Linked DNA regions of Homo sapiens. The protein of the gene in region 2 purifies or fractionates together with the protein of the main gene of each other region. This does not show direct contact. Each region holds a gene or a part of one and is shown on either strand. Other genes may lie near its edges.

Region 1 (3,500 bases), on a different chromosome or scaffold from region 2:
TCATAGGTGGGATTTAAATAGATAATTGTCACCAAGTTATAAAATTTAGTCCCTGTTTCCATAAGAGAAGGGTTGCGCAGTGGCTGGTCCCTTTTATATATAAATCATCTCTTTAGCCCTCATCTTCCTCACCCCGGGTTCTTCCCCATTTCATAGATTGGGAAAGTGAGGTGAAATCACTTCCCTGGGATCCCATAGGAAGGCATTGTGTTTTCATAATATATTCACATGACTTCAAATTCAAAAAGCACACAATGGCATAGAATGGAAAGGGTTTGGGCCAGTCACTTCCCTCTGGCGTTGAGGTGCTCATGTACCCTGTGCCCTTCCGGAGAGATTCCAGCATGCTGTGCACACCTGCATGTTGACCCTTGTCTTGCCTTCTTCCTGCTTGTCAGATCCTTCCATATCCGGACATGCGTAGTGCCTCATCCTTGCAGCCAGCGGCCTTCATGCTCCACTGTAATTCGTGGGTTAGTGGGTATATGCACTTGTTGTTTTTGATGCTACCACATGGGGATATTTGCCTCGTCTGAACTCTGTGTATTCTCTGCTGCACCTTGTTGCTTCTTTGCAATAAACTTCCTGAACTCAAAGCTAATACTGGGGGGAATCCCAGAAGCTGCTGAGGGCAGGGCCATGCTGCTCAGTGTTCCACCCTAGCTCCTGACAGCATTTCCCTAGAAAACTGCTGCTGGGCCTCTAATGGAGCAAATAAATCTGTGTACAACTAGGCAGCAATAGTTTGTCCAAAAGTCCTGGTGTAATCTAGTCCCTCAAACTGTGCAGCCTTACATGGAGTACACACACACTTGCAGCCTTGAAGTACTACCCACTGAGGGGAGAAGGCACGGCAAGGGGAAAGGTTGGCACAGGATGGAGCAAGTGCTTTTTCTCACACATTCTGGAGGAAAAGTTATCCAGTTCTTCTGTTCTAGAAACACCCCTGTCCTTCAGAAACCAGGGTCTAGTTGCTCTGGCTACCAGGCGTGAGCAGGTGGTGGTAGCACCACAGGCCCCGGTTACCATCACTGTCCCATGTCTTTGATCTTCGTCCTTGTGGGGACTGGCCTGCATGGCCTCGGTGGCAGCGAGCCCTGCAGAGGCAAGTGCATCAGCATCACTGTGTTTGTTCCCAGGTTACGTCGGCGCTGCTACCGTGGGTGCTGCTGCATGGTGGTTCATTGCTGCTGACGGTGGTCCAAGAGTGTCCTTCTACCAGCTGGTACTCAGTCACCTTTCTTTCTGTACCTTACATGAGAAGTGTTGTGAGGCCTTGACCTTTCTGTGGTTTCGGTATCTATCAAATCATCTTAAGACTCAGACAATAAACAGTTACATCTAAGATGATTCTGAAGGACCAGGGCTTCTCCGAGAAATTGGGGTAAACCTCTTGGCTGGCTCTGCATTCAGGCTGGTCTGTGCTAGGCTTGGTATGGGGTTGGAGCCTGGACTTGGGAAATATACTGGGCTGATAGGAATTTGATTGGATTTTCTTGCAGAGTCATTTCCTACAGTGTAAAGAGGACAACCCGGACTTTGAAGGCGTGGATTGTGCAATCTTTGAATCCCCATACCCGATGACAATGGCGCTCTCTGTTCTAGTAACTATAGAAATGTGTAACGCCCTCAACAGGTTAGTGCACCTTCACGGCAGGCTGAGGCGAGCATGGTGACTGCCAGGGCACCGGGGAATTGTGTGTAGTCACGGTTGATTGAGGATCACAGGACAGTTCTTCCCTTCCCAAAAGAAAGGAGAACAGGCAATACCAGTTTTAAAAGCATGAGCTGTCGTCACCTCCAGGAAGTAGTGGGAGTGCTTAGCCCTGTGTTTCTTAGGAGCTCTTCCTTAAAAGAAACCGTGGGGGCCAAAAATAGGAACTTTGGTACCCCTGTATGCCAGCACCCACAGGGAAGGAACCTCACCCTTTCACACAGACAAATGGTACCATCCAGTTAAGCCCGTGACAAAAATGGAAATTTCTAAATAGCCCAAGTCTCCAGGGCAATTGGGAACAGCTTTGAACCCACTAAGATGGGGTCTGCTATGCCAAAACATAGATACAGAATTCACAGTTTGTCCTGCATTAGGACATTCTCTTCAACTTTGCCACTGTAGAAAGTGGAGGTAGGTCAGCGGATGGTGCCACATTAACAGCCGCCTTACTGAAGTGTAGTCCAACAGGGTCTTACTGCCACTGTGACACGTGCCTTGCCTTGGGGGTGCGTTTCCCCACCTCTCCTTGCTCTGCAGCTTGTCCGAAAACCAGTCCTTGCTGAGGATGCCCCCCTGGGAGAACATCTGGCTCGTGGGCTCCATCTGCCTGTCCATGTCACTCCACTTCCTGATCCTCTATGTCGAACCCTTGCCAGTAAGTGGTTGGGTGGGGCTTGGGACCAGCCACCTCCTTCCAGGGGAGGCTGGAGGCGTGACACGTCTTCCCTGTGTGTCAGCTCATCTTCCAGATCACACCGCTGAACGTGACCCAGTGGCTGATGGTGCTGAAAATCTCCTTGCCCGTGATTCTCATGGATGAGACGCTCAAGTTTGTGGCCCGCAACTACCTGGAACCTGGTAAAGAGTGTGTGCAGCCTGCCACCAAATCCTGCTCGTTCTCGGCATGCACCGATGGGATTTCCTGGCCGTTTGTGCTGCTCATAATGCCCCTGGTGATCTGGGTCTATAGCACAGACACTAACTTTAGCGATATGTTCTGGTCTTGACTGACAGTTTTCCATAAAGAAGATGTTTAACTTAATCAATTAATTTTTTTATTGTTTAAAGCAACTGTCTATTTCTGCTGAATTTTCACATGAACATACTGGCTGGTGATGGAGGTTTCATACTCTAGATTTTGTTTTGCTTTTTCTGACTCCAGTGGGGCAAGATTTTCCTTTTTTATACACATAATTAAAGTGTCCATTGACATGTACAGAGAACTAACACTATTTTATGCAAATATTTTTTTGTAGATGAAAAAGCATGTACAGTGTTCTGTTTAATACTCATCCTTGTATAAAAAAAATAGTTGAGCCAGCAGACATTGTCAGCAAATTAATTGGCAGCAGATTTTAGGAAATGAATGTGTGTGGTTTTTTTTCTAAAACTAAATAGCATGTATTGTGTCTTTTGCATGATGATCCGGATTTAATTTGATATCACAGTCTAATTTTTATTCATAAGCCAATTTTTCTGCACTGAGCAGAGTCTTGCTACCTCAGTCAGTATTGTTTTGGTTTGCTACTTCCCTCACCCACTTTGGCCTCCGTTCACCCCACCCCACCCCACCTCTCCCCACCTTACCCCCGCCCCGCTTGGCTTCTTCTTTAGGATTGTGATGGTTCGTTCTGTTTACATCAGTTTTAACGAGAGGTATGCCTGTACTCGCTTGTGCAGAAAACATTGTTCCAGATTCAATCGACTGGGTTTATGTCCCTTCACATAGTTTTTAAGGTTATTTATTTAAATGTCTAATGTATTTTATTGTAACAGACATTGT
Region 2 (3,500 bases):
CAGTTTCTTGGCCTTTCTATGCCTCAGTTTCCTCATCTGAAATATGAAAACAGTAATAAGCATGCCCACCTCACAGAGCTTTTGTGATATAATTACATGACTTCATGCATATAAAAGCACTTAGAACAATGCCTGGCACAGAAAGTATTACTCCTCACTCTGAATTCATAAATTGGACAGAACATCAATGGAAGCTGGAGTCCTTAAGTTCAAGAAAATATGTTTAAGAATTCTTAAATAAAAGAAGTAAACTAACCCATGAAAAATACCAGAAGTAGACATTTTGCAAAGACAGGGTTAAAAAAAAAAAAAAGTCAAGTTACTGAGTAAAACAGTAATGCCGATGTACTTATATGCTGTTAGGTCCAGAACAAACAGAATTTACAGACATTAATCAATCATGTTAAAACTTGAACCTCAACAGGAGTAAAGGAATAGCTTCATGACAAAATGATGAGGATGATGACCAAAATGACCGTAGCTAATAACATCTAACTCCAATTAAATGCTTACCATACTCCAGACTACCGAACGCTTTACATGCATTAAAACTAGCACAACCCTATGAGGCACATATTACTATTACAAAATAGAGGTACGGAGAGATCAGGAAACTCACAGAAGGTCACACAGCTAGTACCAAAGCCAGGATTCAAACCAACTGTCTGACTGCAAAGCCTATACTCTTAAGCTGCAGTACAATCCATACTTAACAACAGATCTTACGGTTACTTTAAAATTCTAGAGAAACTCCTACTAAAATATTTCTGAAGGTACTCTATTAACTGAATTAACTAGATGTATTAAAAATCCCTTGCCTCTATTCATTCAGAAGCACACACTGACAACTAAGAAGGCACTAAGCTTAGAGCTGGGGATAAAATGAAAAGATTCAATCTCTGCCCTTGGTAAGAAGCATCCTCTACAAATTAGCAGAAATCATAAGCTAAATTTAATGAAGCCAGACAAACCTGAGTAGCTTTGTGTTTCAGCTGGTTGCAGAAAGCCCTCACATCAAATTCTGATGACTCTTCTGTGGAGGTGGAAAAATTGCAGATACAAAACCTTAGGCATACTATTTTCAAATCTACAACAAATTCTTAAGTGCATGACATTTCTTGCCAAATTACCACAAAATAAAGGAATAAAGCAAGCAAATAACTAGGAAGCAACTACAGAAACAAATAAACAACTTAAAGTACTCAAGCTTAGAAAGCACAGGTATTACCATACCTCTCTAATCAATATGAGTCAAAATTAAGATGTGAGATGTTGAATTTCTTTCTATGCAATGCATGACTATTACTTTCAAAAGGTTTCTTTTTATTTGTTTTTTGTTTTACTAGAGTATGTGCTGTATCAAAGCAAATTACCTTTGAAGACTCTCTTATTCTTTACTGGCTGTCCAAGATCCACATTATTCTGTACATTGATCTTCATTTGTTTAGCTTTTTTTGAAATTCCAAGCAAGGTTTCTTCACTGGCTCTTGGTGACTGCTCATTTATTAAAAACAGTTTATTTAGCAATTTATTTATTCCTTTAGCTGCAAAAGCTATAGGCATTTTTTTCTTAAAGGCTTCAAAATATGGCTGTCCTAAAAATTCAGTGATATCAGAAGGAAAGGTAAAATCTTTGAAGTAAGGCATTGGTTGAATCCTAGCGACCTCTTGAAGCAATCCAAACAAAGGCTCATATAACAAAATCAACCTTTTTAAGACACCTTTATAGAGAACCCTAGAGAAAGAAATAGGAGCTCATTAATTAGCCAGTAATTACAATTTGCAGATTACATAATAAACTGCAAGATTGAAAGCTGAAAATAAATGGCTATCAAGGTCCTCCAGTACAGATAAAAAACACTATAGTGCACACTTGCGAACAGCCAGATTAGTCCAACCCAACAGAAAAATCCAAGTATAAAATGTTACTCAAAAAACTGTAAGACAGTCTACCAGGAAAGATATATATATATTCAAAAAGTACTACATGGAGAAATGTACAAAAGGATGCATATCAAAGTTTTAAGTGTGGTAGATGGTGAGATTTTAGGCAAATTTCAGGTTCTTCACATTTCTCTTTTTAAATTTCTTAAAACAGGCATGTATTATAATCAGCAAAAATTAAAGCTATTTTCATTACAGAAGAGAGTATCAAAGGTTTAGCATTTTAAAATAATATGATTAGTAATCAAACATTGTTACCTCTGATTAAGAATAAGTAGAATAAAAAATAAAACAATAGGAAATACTATTTGAGATATCCAGGTTAAGATATCAAAGCAAGGTTTTCAATCTCTAAACACAGAAACTTTTTTTCTTTTCTCCATCCAATGTTTTCTTACATTCATATTAGAACTAATAATCTTAATTGTTTGAAATGGCCCAAAACAGGCCTTCTTACAGATACGGGCAAATTCTAATTATCCATCAGATCAGTTTCACAATATGTACTGAGAGACATGAAAGAGATGTCTCTTTAGTTTCCAAGTATTACCAGCATACATCAACTAAATATGCTCAAAAAAGCAGTGGTGTTTGAGATGGAAGAAAATAGTCTAGCACATAAGAAGGTCAAAAATTGCATTTATCATTGCCATTAAAAATTAGAAACCGAGTGACAGAAAGAATCAAGTGATACAGCCAGCCCAGGATTAGCATCATTTTAAACGGCCTGTTGCAATATGACTACTACCAACAATTTTTTATTACTGCAATTCCCAGTCACAGGCATTAATTTTTTTAATGTTCAGTAAAAGCCCACTGATGTTTCACTACAACCTACCATGACCCAGATTTCAGTGTGACACCAGTCACTCCCGATTTTTTTAGTTGTTCAGTGATTGGGCTGATCTTGTGGATTGAGATACAAAGCCTACTCCTTTGATACAGCCATCAGCACTCGGCTTCCCAATCTACCCTCAAAAAACTCTGATCAAACCAAGAAAGAGAATACCTGCACCTTCCATAACCCCATAAGAAAATAAGTTTGAAAACTACTAATAAGAAACCTAGGCTGAAAGGAGATGAGAAAGAAATGAAGGATGTCAGAGGTATGTACATACCATAACCTGCTCACCAGCCCAACCATCACAAGGTTTAAAATAATGAACTCTTGCAAACCTAGATGTTTCACAGTCAAACTGGAAAATCAATTTAAGGTAGAAAACAAAATCAAAGTAATGTGGGTTTTGTAAGTTACAATCATGAATGAAGAAATATATTGGAAGTAAAGAGAATTTTCTTAAAGGTATTAAAGCCTTAAAACACATTCTATTTAAGAATTTAAAACTTTAAAATATGGTTATAAACACTCTGCTAGAGTTCCCATTATTAAATTTAGTTCTTAAAGTTTAGTTTCTAAGATTAAGAATTTCTAGCTATCAATGCTCTTAGGATAATACGTGCTGAACAGTGACAGGCAGTCTCTGGCAATGGCTGCATCAGGCAATTCCTGAGAAAAGGAGGCCAAGAAGCAAAAGTTTAAGAATTCCTGTAGGTTG
Region 3 (3,500 bases), on a different chromosome or scaffold from region 2:
CCTTGTGACTGGTAATGGAAACTTTAAATAGTGACCAGCTTTTCAGAGTACTGTAATATACAAATACTATACAAATACTATAGTGGACTTCATTAACTTCATTATTAGTATCTGAACAACATACATTGCCTCAGTTATCAGTTTATTTTGATATACTTCTAAAAATTTATATGATGGTAGATGAAATCCTTACAGCATCAGACATGCGCACATTTGCTCTCTACTTGTCATCATCCGCTTTTTCCACATGAAAGCACCAAATCCACACTCCTGGGAGCAGAGCTTTGGTTCCCGCAAAACTCACTGAAGTGCTGCTTAGCATGACATCACCTCCATTAGCTAGTGCCCAGCAGGGTACAAATTATTCTGAGGATGGTGATCTCATCTTAGAAGGATAAAAAAATCACATCCTAAGGGAAATAGTCACTGCCTTAAATGAAAACAGAAATTTTGCCTGTAATCCCAGCACTTTGGGAGGCCGAGGCGGGCGGATCACAAGTTCGGGAGATCAAGACCATCCTGGCTAACACGGTGAAACCCCGTCTCTACTAAAAATATAAAAAATTAGCCAGGCGTGGTGGTGGGTGCCTGTAGTCCCAGCTACTCAGGAGGCTGAGGCAGGAGAATGGCGTGAACCCGGGAGGTGGAGCTTGCCGTGAGCCGAGATCGCGCCACTGCACTCCAGCCTGGGCGACAGAGTGAGACTCCGTCTCAAAAAAAAAAAAAAAAAAAAAAGAAAACAGAAATTTTGGTTTTTAGAACATTCTTATTTGACAAAATATAAATAGGAAAAATAATTGTGATTTAAAAGATTTATCCTGGCATAGCAATGGACTTAACATGAATTGTTTCTTACTGGGCTGATGTGTGTGTAATTCTGTTCAATTCAGGATGCTGCTGCTAAGAAAGGAAATTTCTGAACACATATGTTTATGGCAAAGTTCTCAGTAGACCAACTGATATTACTTAGAAACCTGGAACTCAGGTCTCAGAATCACTTGTCTAGTTCCTGGATCCCTTAACACTTGCCACCAACGCTGTAACAGTCAGGTCTTCAAACACAAAAAAATATTGTCAGTATAAATTTACTTCACTCTAAAATAGATACTTAGACATTTCAAGCTGTGTTTTCCTACACAAGTAAAAAACTAGAATGTTCTCCCTATTTACATGGTGGTTAGCCAACTACTCATTACAATACTGAAGTAAAGCAGACTACAACATCTATAGCATTAAGGCAGAGAAATAAAAATTAATTTCTAAAGTGAAATTTCTATATTAAGCTATAAAGTATTAACAATTTGAAACAACCTGTTATTAAAGAGTGAATGTGTGAAAGTGTGCCTGTGGTGGGGAATTCAAAAGGAGATGTTAAATTAGGATTGCCAGTCTCTAAAACTGAAAGAAAAAATACATTATTTTACAATAGGATTTAAAATATTTGATAAAGATTTCTCAGGGACAAATACTATAGTGGACTTCATTAACTTCATTATTAGTATCTGAACAACATATATTTTCTCAGTTATCAGTTTATTTTGATATACTTTAAAAATTTATATGATGGTAAAGGAAATCCTTACAGCATCAGACATGCGCACATTTGCTCTCTACTTGTCATCATCCGCTTTTTCCACATGAAAGCACCAAATCCACACTCCTGGGAGCAGAGCTTTGGTTCCCGCAAAACTCACTGAAGTGCTGCTTAGCATGACATCACCTCCATTAGCTAGTGCCCAGCGGGGTACAAATTATTCTGAGGATGGTGATCTCATCTTAGAAAGATAAAAAATCATATCCTAAAGGAAACAGTCACTGCCTTAAATGAAAACATTTATGTGCCAGTCTCTAAAACTGGCAATCCTAATTTAAATTTTAAATCTCTAAAATTCTTAATCAGCTCATTAGGCTGTTGCTGGTTCCTGTCCTACAGGGAAACTCTGAGGTAAGAAATAAAATCTGGTCTCTGCCCTAAGGGTTTTTAAATCTCAAAGTGAGACCTAAAAAACAACTGTTAGTTTCTGAATCATGTCCATGAATGTAAATGCTTTTAAGAAACATTTACTAGTAAAGATTTACCAAAACAGTAGCCAAAGGATGTGGCGTGAGAGCTGTGTGCAAAGCGCTGCGTGATGACTGTCCCTCTTAATGCTGGCTCATACAGGCTAGGTACTGAACTCAAAGTACAAGCGTATTTTCGTGAGTCCTCCCAATGACACTCTGAGGCATAAGGATCCCCACTGCAGAGTTCAGGTGACTGAGGCTAAGAGAAGTTAATGAACTTTAAAGTCGCACAGCCAAGATTCAAACTAGGATCTTCCCAACTCAAGAGGGCAGACTCCCACTATTCTGTAGACAGCTTAGTACTATATAGGAATGATAACACTTAACTTCAGGGAAGGAAACAAAAATCCATAATCTCAGAAGCTTTAAATAAGACAAAGAAAATAAATAACATGATAGAAAGTTACTGCAGAGATAACAAAATAACATAATGCACTGAATTCTAATGAATGAAAAAATGGCAAAAATGACTATGGCATTTCTGATGCGACTAGGTAGTTTACTTTTGTGTTTTCTTTCCTTTTTTAAAAAAATTTAACAAACTTCGCATGTGGCATTCAATTTACTTCTAAAGTGAAATAGGCCAGACACAGTGGCTCGCGCCTGTAATCCCAGCACTTTGGGAGGCCAAGGTGGGAGGAATGGTTGAGATCATGTGTTCAAGACCAGTCTGGGCAACACAGAGAGACCCCATCTCTATAACAAAGTAAAAACAAGTAGCCTGGCATGGTGGCACACACCTGTAGTCCCAGCTACTCAGGAGGCTGAGGCAAGAGGATTACTTGAGCATAGGAATTGGAGGCTGCAGTGAGCTATGATCGCACCACTGCACTTGAGCTTGGGTGACACAGCAAGGCTGTTTCTAAAAATAATAATAATAAAAGTAAAATAACTGGTTTCATGTTCAGCGTTAGGTATATGTCATTAAAACATATTCCCTGTATCTCTGTGTTCCTCCAAAGGAAAAGTGAAGCCTGTCCAGCAGGACTTCTGGGGAGATTACACTTCTGTCAAACAACTTGAAAAATATCAGGATTATATTTATTACCTGTCAGAGAGGACAAAGTCTCAAAAGCAGTCACGTTTCCAGATTTAGCAAATGAAACAGAAAGAACATCTGTTTCACAATAGTTTGGACAAGAAAAGACTTCAGTTGTGATGTACCAGAGGTTTTATCAAAATCTTTTCCCATCTGGTCTCTGAATTCATTTGAGTACGTATAAGAATTATCAAACTGGCGATTGTAACTGGGCCTGGTGAAGTCAATCTTTTAATATTTGTTATGTAATTAAGGTAAAAATATGAGAACAGGAATGTAAAATCAAATACAGAATACATTGAAATAAGTTCCATTGTACTATACAAACAAACCATCCTTTCCTTTCCTCTGGCAAGGGCCACGTGACCAGGAAGACAGTACAGAGCACTCTCCACTA
Region 4 (3,410 bases), on a different chromosome or scaffold from region 2:
CCCTAATAAATCTCCTCTCATCCATCCATCCATCCATCCATCCATCCTATTGGTCCTTTCTCTCTGGAGAACCCTGACTAATACATTTTGGCTACTACCATTCCTCTGAGGAATTAAGTCCTGTGTCTCTGACCCAGGGCTTATGTGTCTTCTGCCAGCATCCCTGAGACTGTAGCAGGCTACCTAGTTAGCCTGCAAGTATGAGGAAATCTCAGAACTTTCACAGTCCTGACAAATCCTTAAAATAGTTAGGAGCTTTAGGAATAGGGAGCTATCCAGAATCCAACGTCTGGATGATCTGCATAGAAGACTTCACGCAACTGAAACTTCAATAAGCCTTTCTGCCCTCTTTTCTATCTACCATATATGGAAGGAGAGGCACCGAAGGCCAGACCTAGGACTCATGGGAGCAACTTGGAGCACCCAGTGACGAGACACTTCCCATGAGGAGCAGACAGATGGGGCTATTTCTAAAACAGACCACCATGCTTCCTATCCTCCAAAAGAGAGTACTACACCATAATTCCTGATGACTTGATCCATTATTATCTGGGTCAAAGATACACTTCTAAAAGGAGCAACATACATGGCCGTTTTAGGCAGATTACGCTGTGTGGTGAATAGCAAACTTTGAACTAAATTTAGTGTCCTAATCAATTAAAAGTTAGAATAAATTCATCTGACATTTAATGGTAGGCCTGAGTCAGTACCCTGTGATAATAAATAAGCAGATTGTGTATATAATTGGTGCTACTTAAAAATATTATAGTCAAGGCTGTTCAAGGTAAGCTGGAGAGAGGAAAGGGGAGAAATAGATAAAATTTAGCTGCTCTGAAGCCACTCTCAAGATCTCTGGATCTACATATAACCCAAAGAGACGCAGGCAGAAAGGCCTGCGTGCCTACATGATCCTGAACTATGGTTTTCAGAGATGTCAGAAGGGCTAGTTTCCTTAATAATATTTTTATATATACGTATAGAATATTCCTTGACTAAAGAGTGAATCACCATTCAATCCTCCATTACTCCTCTTTAATTAACAATTACTTTCAAAATCACTGTATCATTACATAATTTATTCCTCATACCTGTTTTATGCCAAGCCAAAAGAAAATCAAATTTCAATGGCTTCTTTTCTTTGAAAGACCAAGATATTCTTTCATACTTCTTAGAATCCAAGTTTAAGGATAATTCCATCAAATCAATGGAAACAACTTTAAAAATGAAAAAAAGAACATATATTTCATTCATATACGTACAGCTTCTACCATGGAAAAAGTGTTACATTTTTAAAAACTAGAATTTTGGGAAATTTTATGGATAGTAAAATTATTTTATTCTTCTTCCACTCCCTTTGGTTTGCCAAATAAATAAGATCCCTTTGGTGGGCACTTCTAACCTTGAGAGCTAATAAAAACAGACATTTTCAATTTATATGTTTCCTAGGTCAAAGACCAAGGGCAGAGGACCTTGAGAGGTCAGGTTTAATCTACTTATGGATGTGGCGGCCTTAGCTATTGATGTTCGAGCCAGACGCTGTCAGCAAAACATCTCTTCACTCATGGGTGAATTTCTACTAGTAATCATAAAGACTTGGGGAAACCAAAGGAAATTCTTTATTAAGAATAAGTTGTAGACTCCTATCTTGGGTTCAGTACTTGGAATTTTTTTTTTTTTTTTTTTTTTTTTTGAGATGGACTCTCACTCTGTCGCCAGGCTGAAGTGCAGTGGTGCGATCTTGGCTCACTGCAAACTCCCCCTCCCGGGTTCAAGCAATTCTCCTGCCTCAGCCTCCTGAGTAGCTGGGACTACAGGCATGCGCCACCACGCCCAGCTAATTTTTGCATTTTTAGCAGAGATGGGGTTTCGCCATGTTGGTCACAATGGTCTCAATCTCTTGACCTCATGATCCGCCCGCCTTGGCCTGCCAAGGTTTAACCCGAAACATATATATTTAATTGACCAGTCCAAGTCTACAATCTTTATTAAATGCATCTACAGCTGAAAAGAAATGAACTTAAAAGCATCATCCTATCCTCTGTGAAGCTCGAGTCAGAAGTTTGACAGATTTTTTTTAAAAGGCCACATTTTTTTGAACAAAGAGATTAGAGGCAATTCAAACATTTAAATTTAAATTGCCACAAGAAGATTAGAAACAGATGGAACACACATGATACTTACTAAATTTCATAATTTTTCTGCCAGAAAACTGAGATGGATGACCCTGAAGTCCAGTTTCTTCATAAGTGTCTTTATCCAGTGACAAAATTAATTTCCCTATAAATCAAATAATAACTCCCATAAGATACCAAAACTAGAACTTACGTTGTCTGACTAAAAGAAAGCAAGGCAAATTGAGCAGTTAGATATCAATGTAACAAACTGCATACAAGGATCTTATTTATATCACAAGAATATTATTTATGTGTATACATGTCTTGTAACAGATATTATTTATACATTATACATCCAAGGATATTATTTATAATAGTGAAATTTAAAATAATCTGAATTTCTACTAAAGATGAAATAAATAAGTCATGGTATACTCATTCTTTTGAATATCTTCTTTTTTTTTTTCAGACAATCTCATTCTGTCTCCCAGGCTGGAGCGCAGTGGCGCAATCTTGGCTCACTGCAACCTCCGCCTCCCAGGTTCAAAGCGATTCTCCTGCCTCAGCCTCCCAAGGAGCTGGGACTACAGGCATGAGCCACCACGCCGGCTAATTTTTGTATTTTTAGTAGAGGCAGGGTTTCACCATGTTGGCCAGGCTGGTCTCGAACTCCTGACCTCAGGTGATACACCTGCTTTGGCCTCCCAAAGTGCAGGGATTACAGGCGTGAGCCACCGTGCCCAGCTGACTTTTTTTTTTTTTTTTTTACAGTATGCATTTTTTTTTAACAATTAAAGAAAGATGAAAAAATAAAGTGTTACCATTTGGTAGCAGGGCAACAGTATTATCTTCATCAATATGTGTATTGTATGTTAGTGCATAGCAAGAACCTGGAAGAGAAAGTACAGAGGAAAAATTTAAAACAAGAAATTACACCTGCAAGATGTTAGTGGATTATTTTTACAAGATAACCAGTCTTCCGGGTCATTAAAGGTCAGTTTCTACCCCTGCTCCAGCTCACTCAATAAACCAAACATCTGCTAAGGGTAAGCTGCAGCATGCAGAAGACCAAGCATGCAGAAGACCAAGCATGCAGAAGACCAAGCATGCAGAAGACCAAGCATGCAGAAGACAAAGCTTGCAGAAGACCAAGCATGCAGAAGACCAAGCATGCAGAAGACCAAGCATGCAGAAGAACAAGCATGCAGAAGACCAAGCATGCAGAAGACCAAGCATGCAGAAGACCAAGCTTGCAGAAGACCAAGCTCCAGCTAGTTCACTCCCTGACCAACAGCC
Region 5 (3,500 bases), on a different chromosome or scaffold from region 2:
AGGAAAGAAGAAACATAGACACTGTTTAGGTTTTTGGTCTGAACAACCAGTGTAAATAACTGAGTAATTAACTGAGATGGAAAAGACCAGGAGGGGTTGCTGTGAGGAGAATCGGTGGCAGCTTTGGCTATGTAAAGTCTGAGATGCCCCCTGAACATCCAGGTGGCTATGTCAAGTGGGCAGCTGGATGCCTGAGCCTGGAGTTCAGGGGACAGGCCTACGCTGGAGATGTCACCTTGGGGGCTGTCAGGTGTAGCTGACATTTGAAACCACAGCATTGGATGAAAGGGATTCTGTGTTCAAGATCCCAGGCCGTGGGTGAGTGCTCGCAGCCACTGTGCCCTTTAGGGTACCAACAGGGGTCCCTGTGTGGAGAAGGTACACAGAGACCACTTAGGGTGTGTCCAGCAAATGGCCGGACTGGCTAAGACAGCCAGCGAGAAGCATCTCCCACCCTTAGCGTGGGGATGATGGTGACTGGGGGCCATCTCAGGGAATCCACACGGTAAAGAGTGTGTCCAACAGAACACACGCCCTGGGTCTCCACAGAGTGACAGAGTGAACCTCTGGATGGCCATGTGCTACACGCTCTTAGGTAAATTACCTGAAATAATAGCCCCGTGAAGATCTGCCTTTAAGAGCTTGGCCTGAATCATCTGTGGCTGCCTGCAGGGTAAACAGAAGCCCTTGGTTTACATCATGATAAAAAGTTCCAAAAGAAGCAACTAGGTCTTTAACCGTCTGCAGCCAGGCAATACCAACGCTGGTTCCTGAAGCCGCATTTACAATGATCAGAGGCTTGAGATCCACCCCAAAGAGCAAAGCTTCAGGAATGCAACTTACGTGTCTGGCTTGAGCCCACTGCACAGGTCCCTGATGTACTGTTTCCAGAGTTCATGGAGAGGGAGGAAAAGGCTGTATCTGCAGCAAAGTCAGAAACAGGGAAAAAGTTAGACAACATGAGCTTGGGATGACAATGTCCAAATAGCACAGAGCTTGACTTGATGCCAACAACTGCAACCTGGGATCATTAGGAACTATGTGCAAATCCGACGATGAGCAATTGAGCTGATAACCGAGACCAAGAACCTACACCTCTCTAACCTCAGTTTCCTCATTGGTAGGACCACACCAGCCCAGGGCGGTGTCCACCTGGACTTCTTTTCATGAGAGAGAAATAAACGTGAGTCTTGTTGAAGCTACTGTTATTTTGAGGTTTTCTGTTACGTGAAATTGAACCTAGTAAGCCCCCAGTAAAGCAGGGGTTGCTGGTTGTCACGCAGGTCCTCATGTGAGGCAGCAGGCTGGTCTGGAAGGTGGGCAAGCAAGTGGTGGGGAGAAGAAGCGGGGAGCAGGGGCAAGGACCCCAACAGCGTTCTTCTGGGCCATTATCTCCAGTCTTGATATCCTGTGGGGAATCCGTTACCACAAAGCCTTAGGTTAGAGAAATGAGGACCTTAAGCTCAAACCCAACCTGGGCTCCACCCGGGAGGCAAACCCTGGGAGGCAGCAGCCCCTTCTCCACCTGAGGCCCAGCTGATCTCCTGAGTGGGGCCGGGAACAGCATGGCATACTTTAAGCGTCTTCTGGAGCGTGGGAGGCTATTTGGCCGTTGATCTCCAAGCAAAAGCCTACAGACAGCCCCAAGACACCCACACTCAGACCCGTCACCAAGGAGGGATGGCGGGTCGGCTGGAGGAAGACATCCTCCCACAGGACAGGACAGTGATGCATTCCTTTTGGAAACTTCTGAAACGTGTGGGCAACATCTTGCTTTGGCAATGAAACCCGAGTGGGTGACTGTCTGGCTCTATCAAAAGCTACAAAGTAATACACACTAAAAACATATCAGTTCCTCTTTTCTGTCTAACAAAGCCGAAGGACAAACAGCCTGTTGCCATGGGCAACAGATGTACTTGCACGGGTCTTACTCCTGAAGGTGAGGAGAGAGGCCAGACAATGAGTCCTGTCTCACCCGCCTCGCTGAACACAGCCCAGATTGGTAAAGGAAGGCTGCCCTCTTGTGGCAGACGACAGAGAGGCCCCCTTAGCTTAGGTGGAGCCAGGCTGCCTCCCCAGCCACTCAGCCAAGTTCACACACCAAGAAGGGTAAGCACCGCGGGCAGAAAGACGTGGGGAGCTCGGGTTACCTCTGCTGCTCTGGTTTAATGTCAAAGAGCCGCAGCTCCCTCCTTTGCCTGGCAGAGAGGCCTTTGGCTTTCTTCTTCTTCTCCTTGCGCTTGTGGCGGGTGAAGTACTCCAGGACCACCGCCTTGCGCTGCAGCTGGTCCTCGCGGGCCTGCGGGCTCATGCGGGGCGTGCTGCGCTTCAGGAAGGCCCTCACGAAGGCCTCGGCCCGCTGTGCTCCTGAAGGCTGCAGGCGGACAAGGGGGTGCGGCGCTCACTGCTCCGGTCTGGGCAGCCCAGGATCCCAGGCATCCCGCCCGCCATTCCCGGCAGCTACTGCAAGAGCAAATGGGGCCCATCCCTTTACCTACTGAGGCTCTCAACCTGCTCATCCGCCATGCATCTGCTACCCACAGCTGCCGAGATGTAAGTCACACTCACACACCAATTCATGACCGTTTGTCACACACAACAGCGTGTCAAACGCTCACTTCCTGCTCTGGCCCTGCTTTTCTGAGGTTATTCTGAAAGGACCAAAACCTTTCTATCTTGAAGAAGAATTCTCTCATCCTTGGCAGAAGAGAAAGCTTGAGAAATGTATAACAAATATATTCAACCAGGCATGACCAGATGAAAGTGAGCTCAGAGTAGCACTAAGCTATGGAGGAAGTGATCCTAACACTACAGAAAACAGCAAAACTAGGGCTCCAGGGTCGGCCAAGCCTCAGGGCGCAGGGACCCTGACACTGTGCCCTTAGGACAATACTCCTTAACCGGGTTTCCAGCTCTGTGGGCATGGTGTGGCCACTCTCCAAAAGGTCCGCTCCCGCCCCGCAGACCATCACTTGGAGGAAGGTACCGTCGAGAGCATCTCAGGCCCCAGGCTCGCTCTCTCTGAAGGGTGTCACTGAGAGCAGGGCGTCAACTTACCATGAATGAGCACAGGCTCTTAGAGAGGACTTCTGGGAAAAATGACTGTCGTAATTGTGTGCAATTCTCAAACAAACAAACAAACAAACAAACAAACAAAGAAACCCTCCAAGCTCACTACCTCTCAGGTTGGAGTTCCAATAACGGATTCCTCATTTGGTGGCAATGCCACTGCCCTCATGCCTGCCACAGACCTGGGCAGTTCTCTCTCCTGAGGGCCTGTCTCCTGGCTGGGCTGTTTCCTGAGCTCTTTTTGCACTAGCCAGGTGCTAAATGCTAAGACTGAGGCTGACAGACTGATGCTGATCTGTCAATAGTAACGCAGCCTTCCTTCTGTGGGAGAGCAATGGGGATGGGAAGATAGGGTACATATAGCCTTCGAGGGAGCTCACAGTATGATGGTGGGAACTCTGCTTCAGCTTTGCACCTGTAGATGCTAACTA
Region 6 (2,444 bases), on a different chromosome or scaffold from region 2:
TCTGTGTTTCTAGCCATTTGGGCATCAGGCTCAGGTTGGGCAGAGAGTTGGATTTATCCAGATTTGGTTTATCCAGATCTGGTTTGATTTATCCAGATCTGGTTTATCCAGATGAAGACACTGGGGTAGGGATTGGTCATATGATTAGTGGTAGACTTTATACTTGGATAAAGAGGGGAGAAAAGGGGAAAATGAGGGTTGTTTTTTTTTTTTTAAATTGTTTTGTAGAAATGGAGTTGCACTGTGTTACTCAAGCAGTCTTGAACTCCTGCCCTCAAGTGATCCTCCCCAAGTGCTAGGATTACAGGTGTGAGCCACTGTGCCCAACCTTGGAGTGAGATGAATAGGTGATAGAATCGCTGTATTACAGGTCCTAGATTAAGAATGAGAAAACAATAAGGAATTACCTAAGAAAAATAGGAAGGTACATAATTGGAAAGTTGAGTGGTATAATTGAAAAAACCCAGGTAGAAAACAGCTGGACTGGGAGGTCAGTCTGAAAGCCCAGGTTATTAGAAGCTGTTACACTCGAACCTTAGTAATAACTGCAGTAAGAAAAAGATAGTAAATGGAGCAGAATCCAAAATAAGATGGAAAGCCTAGTTTTTAGAAACTGGGAGAGTTGATTTAGAAGCCACAATAAGGTTAGAACAGTCACCACTGTAGGGTTGCAGAGAAAAGTCAGAACAATTTTGTTGAAGATTCATCATGAGTTCCAAAAGATGTGGGGAAAGAGTTTTAGAATGTACAAAGGTAAATGTGAATTTATTCCCATGATGACTCATGGATACTAAAGGCCTGGGGCTTTCTGGAGTGCTCAGAGTATGGGCAGAGGAAAGGCCAGGAATCCATCATTTCTGAGCACTGGGGGAAAGAAAATCCCAAAATTTAGTATCTTTATCTTGGTGATTAAAAGACTCAAGCCTGTAATCCCAGCACTCTTTGGGAGGCCAAGGAGGGAGGATAGCTTGAGGTCAGGAATTCAAGACCAGCCTTGGAAACATAGCAACACATCGCTACTAAAAATCAGACATTAATGAGACGTGGGGGGCTTGCCTATAGTCCCAGTTACTCAGGAGTCTGAGGTGGGAAGATCACTTGAGCCTGGGAGATTGAGGCCACAGTGAGCTGTCATCATTCCATGGCACTTTAGTCTGGGCAACAAAGCAAGACTCTTCCCCCTACTCAGCATCCCCCCCCCCCCAAAAAAAAAAACCCATCTCTTTACACAAATTGCCTACAGACCACTTGATACAGAATGGGCCAGACATGGTGAGTTAGTTGTGAACCAACTGGTTACACTGGTGGGTGTGTTGAAGAGAGAAGGTTTTATCATTCTTAAGTTTGACACCGTTCATTGCAGGGGCCCTCCTCGCCAAAGACAGCCTAGAGAGGACGGCAATGAAGAAGATAAAGAAAATCAAGGAGATGAGACCCAAGGTCAGCAGCCACCTCAACGTCGGTACCGCCGCAACTTCAATTACCGACGCAGACGCCCAGAAAACCCTAAACCACAAGATGGCAAAGAGACAAAAGCAGCCGATCCACCAGCTGAGAATTCGTCCGCTCCCGAGGCTGAGCAGGGCGGGGCTGAGTAAATGCCGGCTTACCATCTCTACCATCATCCGGGTAAGCAAGCTTGGATGGCCATCCATTTATGGCAGTCGTGAGTGGTGACCATTTCGTTTTATTAATGCAAGAGTAGAAAAACCTCAGTTCCATCAGATAATGAAAGCCATGTTATTTATAATGTGTTCTGCCCTATTCTTAATTACCTAATATTTCATTTTAGGAATATTGAATATCAGAGTCATATTTGGCCACCCTTCAGCTAGTTCTCAATTCTGACACTGGAGACCTGTATTTTCATGAGTATTTTGAACTATTAGTGCTTTCTATCAACTTTTCTGAATGAATTTTATGATTTCACTAGTAAACAGAGGAAAGTTTTGCTAGCTGTATTCTGAGAAATATGTTAATTACATTATTATTTATGCATTATTTCAAAAAGGAAGTGGGGATAGCTGTTAGAATTAACCTAGATGGTGACAAATAGAGTCTGTTTGGAGAAAGTGGCAACATTAATATAATCTTTTAATCATTTCTAATTGTTTTTTTTTTTTGTTGGTTTATGTTGTTCCCGGAAAAAGACGAGAGTGTTTCGTGTCTAAAAAACTCCTAGAATGACACGTGGTTTATCATGGTTTATTTAAACTGCCTGTAGATTAATAATAATAATTCTCTGGCAGACCACATGATACAATTACGTTCTTGTTACTTTAGCTCATTAGCTCACTTGTTTTTATTACCCTTAATTCCAAAATTAAGGGATTCTTTTTCATTTCGCTTTTTACATGATATCGAGAGGTACGTGATTGTTGTTCCCTCCAAAATTAGCATTCAACCAGTGGTGCTTTTGGTTTTTTCCCGTTTACTATTTGCTG
Region 7 (2,598 bases), on a different chromosome or scaffold from region 2:
GCCTCGGTCACTGTCGAAGCCGGCTTCGTTGTAGTATGGTTCATTTACCAGGATCAGACCTGTGTGGGCGGGACACCTTCCCTCAGTGGGTGAGAGAGGCCCACAATGCAGGCCTACCCTCCACCTGCCAGGGGGACTATCAGAGTCACTTTCCTCCACCGGCCCTCCCTTGTCCGCACCCCCGCTTCAGCCCAACTGTACCTTGGATGGAGATGAGCACCTGGAGAAGGCTGGACTTGCTTGTCCACCTCTCTGTCCCCTGAAACACACAGGGCACCATCAATTCTGTTCCCCAGGCCCCTATCCACCAGTGGCTCTTCCTCCTTCTTGGCTGGGGGCCTGGCCCTATACTCACCTTTCCAATCCAGGTGCCCAGGAGGCTGACACACACCTTCCCATTGTCATACAGGTTGGGGTTCAGGCGGCCACTGCATTGGGAGAGGTAGCAGAAGTGGGGGGGCACGGCTGGGTAGATGTTGGGGAGCTGGATGTCAAACAAGTAGAGGCCATCCTCGTAGGGGGTTCGAGTGGGGCCCTTGATGAGAGCTGAGAAGAGGTCCTAGGTAGGGAGGGAGGGAGGGAGGCCAAGGTTGGCAGGGGTGGAAGGGGGTGTCCTACATGTGGCATCTGCATCTGCACCTGCTCTTTCCCAGGACACTGTGCAGATCACGCAGGAAGAGCAGCACCTGGGACTCCAGATGCCACCAGCAGTGGAGAAGCTAAGGACAAATCTCTCTCTGCAGAACAGCCTGGAATCTTTTTTTTTTGAGACAGGGTCTTGCTGTGTCCCCCAGGCTGGAGTACACTAGTGCAATAATGGCTCACTGCAGCCTCCCAAGTAGCCGGGACTACAGTGTGGGCCACCGTGCCCAGATGATTTTTTTATTTTGTGTACAGACAGGGTTTCACTATGTTGCCTAGGTTGGTCTCGAACTCCTGGGCTCAAGTGATCCGCCTGCCTCGGCCTCCCAAAGTGCTGGGTTTACAGCCCTGAGCCGTCACTGTGCCTGGCCCTTGCCTGGAATCATTGAACCCTGGCTAAGAGAAATACTCGAAGTGAGTTTTTATCTTATCAGGTGTTTTTCCTCATAAATCATTACTTTAAGACTGTATTCCAGCTGGGCGCGGTGGTTCGTGCCTGTAATCCCAGCACTTTGGGAGGCCGAGACGGGTGGATCACTTAAGGTCAGGAGTTCAAGAGCAGTCTGGCCAACGTGGTGAAACCCCGTCTCTACTAAAAATACAAAAATTAGCCAGGCGTGGTGATGCATGCCTGCAGTCCCAGCTACTCGGGAGGCTGAGGTGGGAGAATTGCTTCAACCCGGAGGCGGAGGTTGCAGTGAGCCGAGATTGTGCCATTGAACTCTAGCCTGGGTGACAGTGCGACGCTATCTCAAAAAAAAAAAAAGATTGTATTCCTCAGCCAGACGTGATGGCTCACACCTGTAATCCCAGCACTTTTGGGAGGCCAAGGTGGGAGGACTGCTTGAGGCCAGGAGGTCAAAACCAACCTGGGCAACATAGTGGGACCCTATCTCTACAAAAAATAAAAAATTAGCTGGGCATGGTGGTGCATACCTACAGTCCCAGCTACTCAAAAAGCTTAGATGGGAGGATCACTTGACTCCAGGAGGCTGAGGCTGCAGTGAGCTATGATCACACCACTGCACTCCAGCCTGGGCGACAGAGTGAGACCCTGTCTTTTATTTTTTGGCTTATGTGTTTTTTTGAGATGGAGTATAGCTCTGTCCCCAGGCTGGAGTGCAGTGGTGTGATCTTGGCTCACTGCAACCTCTGCCTCCCAGGTTCAAGCGATTCTCTGCTTCAGTCTCCTCACGCCCGGCTAATTTTTTGTATTTTAATAGAGACGGGGTTTCACCATGTTGGTCAGGCTGGTCTCGAACTCCTGACCTTGTGATCCGCCCACCTTGGCCTCCCAAAGTGCTGGGATTACAGGCGTGAGCCACCACGCCCGGCCAACCCTGTCTTTTAAAAACAAAACAAAACAATTCCTCTAAACACCTGCTCCAACCCTTATCCCCAACAAGGCAAGTAGTACAAGCAGTTTCAAGCTGAAAGGCAGTTCCAGGCTGGTGAGGCCTGGGGAAGGGGGGATGGTCTCACAACCAGAAGCTGACAGTGAGGGTTTGAACTCCATGGGGGAGGTTGGGAGACCACCGCTCCACAGACATCTGGAATCTGTGCATCTATTTGCGTGCATCTGTGCACACACGCGTGTGTGTGGGATCTCAACTGACAGGGCAATGGGCGAGGTCAGTGATGAGCTGAGAAGCAGGGAAGGCAGAGCGCTAGCTGGGGCGAGGGAACCTCTGCACATGCTCTTATCGGTGCCACCCTGGGAGCCTCCAGGGAATGCACTACTTTTCTTCTCCTGAGTGAGATGTGGGGAAAACAGAACAAAACAAAAAATACTGTTTCCATCTTCCCTCAGCAGAGCTGAGACAGGCTAGAATTTTCAAAAGGAATTTTCCTACAACCCAAGAAAAAACCAAAAGCGTTATTAAGAATCTCAAGCAGCACTGGGCCTTAGGACTCTGCCTAGCCCTGTTCCAGGGTTGTGGCTACTCCGGGCCCATC

The links.
Region 1: the proteins of RMP64 (region 2) and ATP2A2 purify together in Homo sapiens (affinity purification with mass spectrometry, with the first as the bait; one study listed by BioGRID). This does not show direct contact.
Region 3: the proteins of RMP64 (region 2) and CASP3 purify together in Homo sapiens (co-immunoprecipitation; one large-scale study listed by IntAct). This does not show direct contact.
Region 4: the proteins of RMP64 (region 2) and RPP40 purify together in Homo sapiens (affinity purification with mass spectrometry; 2 studies listed by BioGRID and IntAct, with this or other methods). This does not show direct contact.
Region 5: the proteins of RMP64 (region 2) and POP4 purify together in Homo sapiens (affinity purification with mass spectrometry; 4 studies listed by BioGRID and IntAct, with this or other methods). This does not show direct contact.
Region 6: the proteins of RMP64 (region 2) and YBX1 purify together in Homo sapiens (affinity purification with mass spectrometry, with the first as the bait; one study listed by BioGRID). This does not show direct contact.
Region 7: the proteins of RMP64 (region 2) and UBE2O purify together in Homo sapiens (affinity purification with mass spectrometry, with the first as the bait; one study listed by BioGRID). This does not show direct contact.

The regions. Positions count from the first base shown.
Region 1 is NC_000012.12:110,343,747-110,347,246, forward strand, and holds part of ATP2A2 (sarcoplasmic/endoplasmic reticulum calcium ATPase 2), read left to right. Parts: intron 1-1,139; coding exon 1,140-1,225; intron 1,226-1,502; coding exon 1,503-1,636; intron 1,637-2,254; coding exon 2,255-2,372; intron 2,373-2,454; coding exon 2,455-2,724; 3' UTR 2,725-3,500.
Region 2 is NC_000003.12:113,009,672-113,013,171, forward strand, and holds part of RMP64 (nucleolus and neural progenitor protein), read right to left. Parts: intron 3,141-3,500; coding exon 3,063-3,140; intron 1,736-3,062; coding exon 1,374-1,735; intron 1,034-1,373; coding exon 972-1,033; intron 1-971. UniProt on the Homo sapiens protein: May play a role in cortex development as part of the Notch signaling pathway. Downstream of Notch may repress the expression of proneural genes and inhibit neuronal differentiation thereby maintaining neural progenitors.
Region 3 is NC_000004.12:184,642,948-184,646,447, forward strand, and holds part of CASP3 (caspase-3 isoform a preproprotein), read right to left. Parts: intron 1,776-3,500; exon of another isoform or gene 1,596-1,775; coding exon of another isoform or gene 1,584-1,595; intron 1-1,583. UniProt on the Homo sapiens protein: Thiol protease that acts as a major effector caspase involved in the execution phase of apoptosis. Following cleavage and activation by initiator caspases (CASP8, CASP9 and/or CASP10), mediates execution of apoptosis by catalyzing cleavage of many proteins.
Region 4 is NC_000006.12:4,997,628-5,001,037, forward strand, and holds part of RPP40 (ribonuclease P protein subunit p40), read right to left. Parts: intron 3,005-3,410; coding exon 2,936-3,004; intron 2,278-2,935; coding exon 2,182-2,277; intron 1,215-2,181; coding exon 1,089-1,214; intron 1-1,088. UniProt on the Homo sapiens protein: Component of ribonuclease P, a ribonucleoprotein complex that generates mature tRNA molecules by cleaving their 5'-ends. Also a component of the MRP ribonuclease complex, which cleaves pre-rRNA sequences.
Region 5 is NC_000019.10:29,609,283-29,612,782, reverse strand, and holds part of POP4 (ribonuclease P protein subunit p29), read right to left. Parts: intron 2,375-3,500; coding exon 2,151-2,374; intron 922-2,150; coding exon 844-921; intron 667-843; coding exon 605-666; intron 1-604. UniProt on the Homo sapiens protein: Component of ribonuclease P, a ribonucleoprotein complex that generates mature tRNA molecules by cleaving their 5'-ends.
Region 6 is NC_000001.11:42,699,418-42,701,861, forward strand, and holds part of YBX1 (Y-box-binding protein 1), read left to right. Parts: intron 1-1,363; coding exon 1,364-1,598; 3' UTR 1,599-1,629; intron 1,630-2,444. UniProt on the Homo sapiens protein: DNA- and RNA-binding protein involved in various processes, such as translational repression, RNA stabilization, mRNA splicing, DNA repair and transcription regulation.
Region 7 is NC_000017.11:76,391,555-76,394,152, forward strand, and holds part of UBE2O ((E3-independent) E2 ubiquitin-conjugating enzyme), read right to left. Parts: intron 560-2,598; coding exon 356-559; intron 260-355; coding exon 202-259; intron 60-201; coding exon 1-59. UniProt on the Homo sapiens protein: E2/E3 hybrid ubiquitin-protein ligase that displays both E2 and E3 ligase activities and mediates monoubiquitination of target proteins. Negatively regulates TRAF6-mediated NF-kappa-B activation independently of its E2 activity.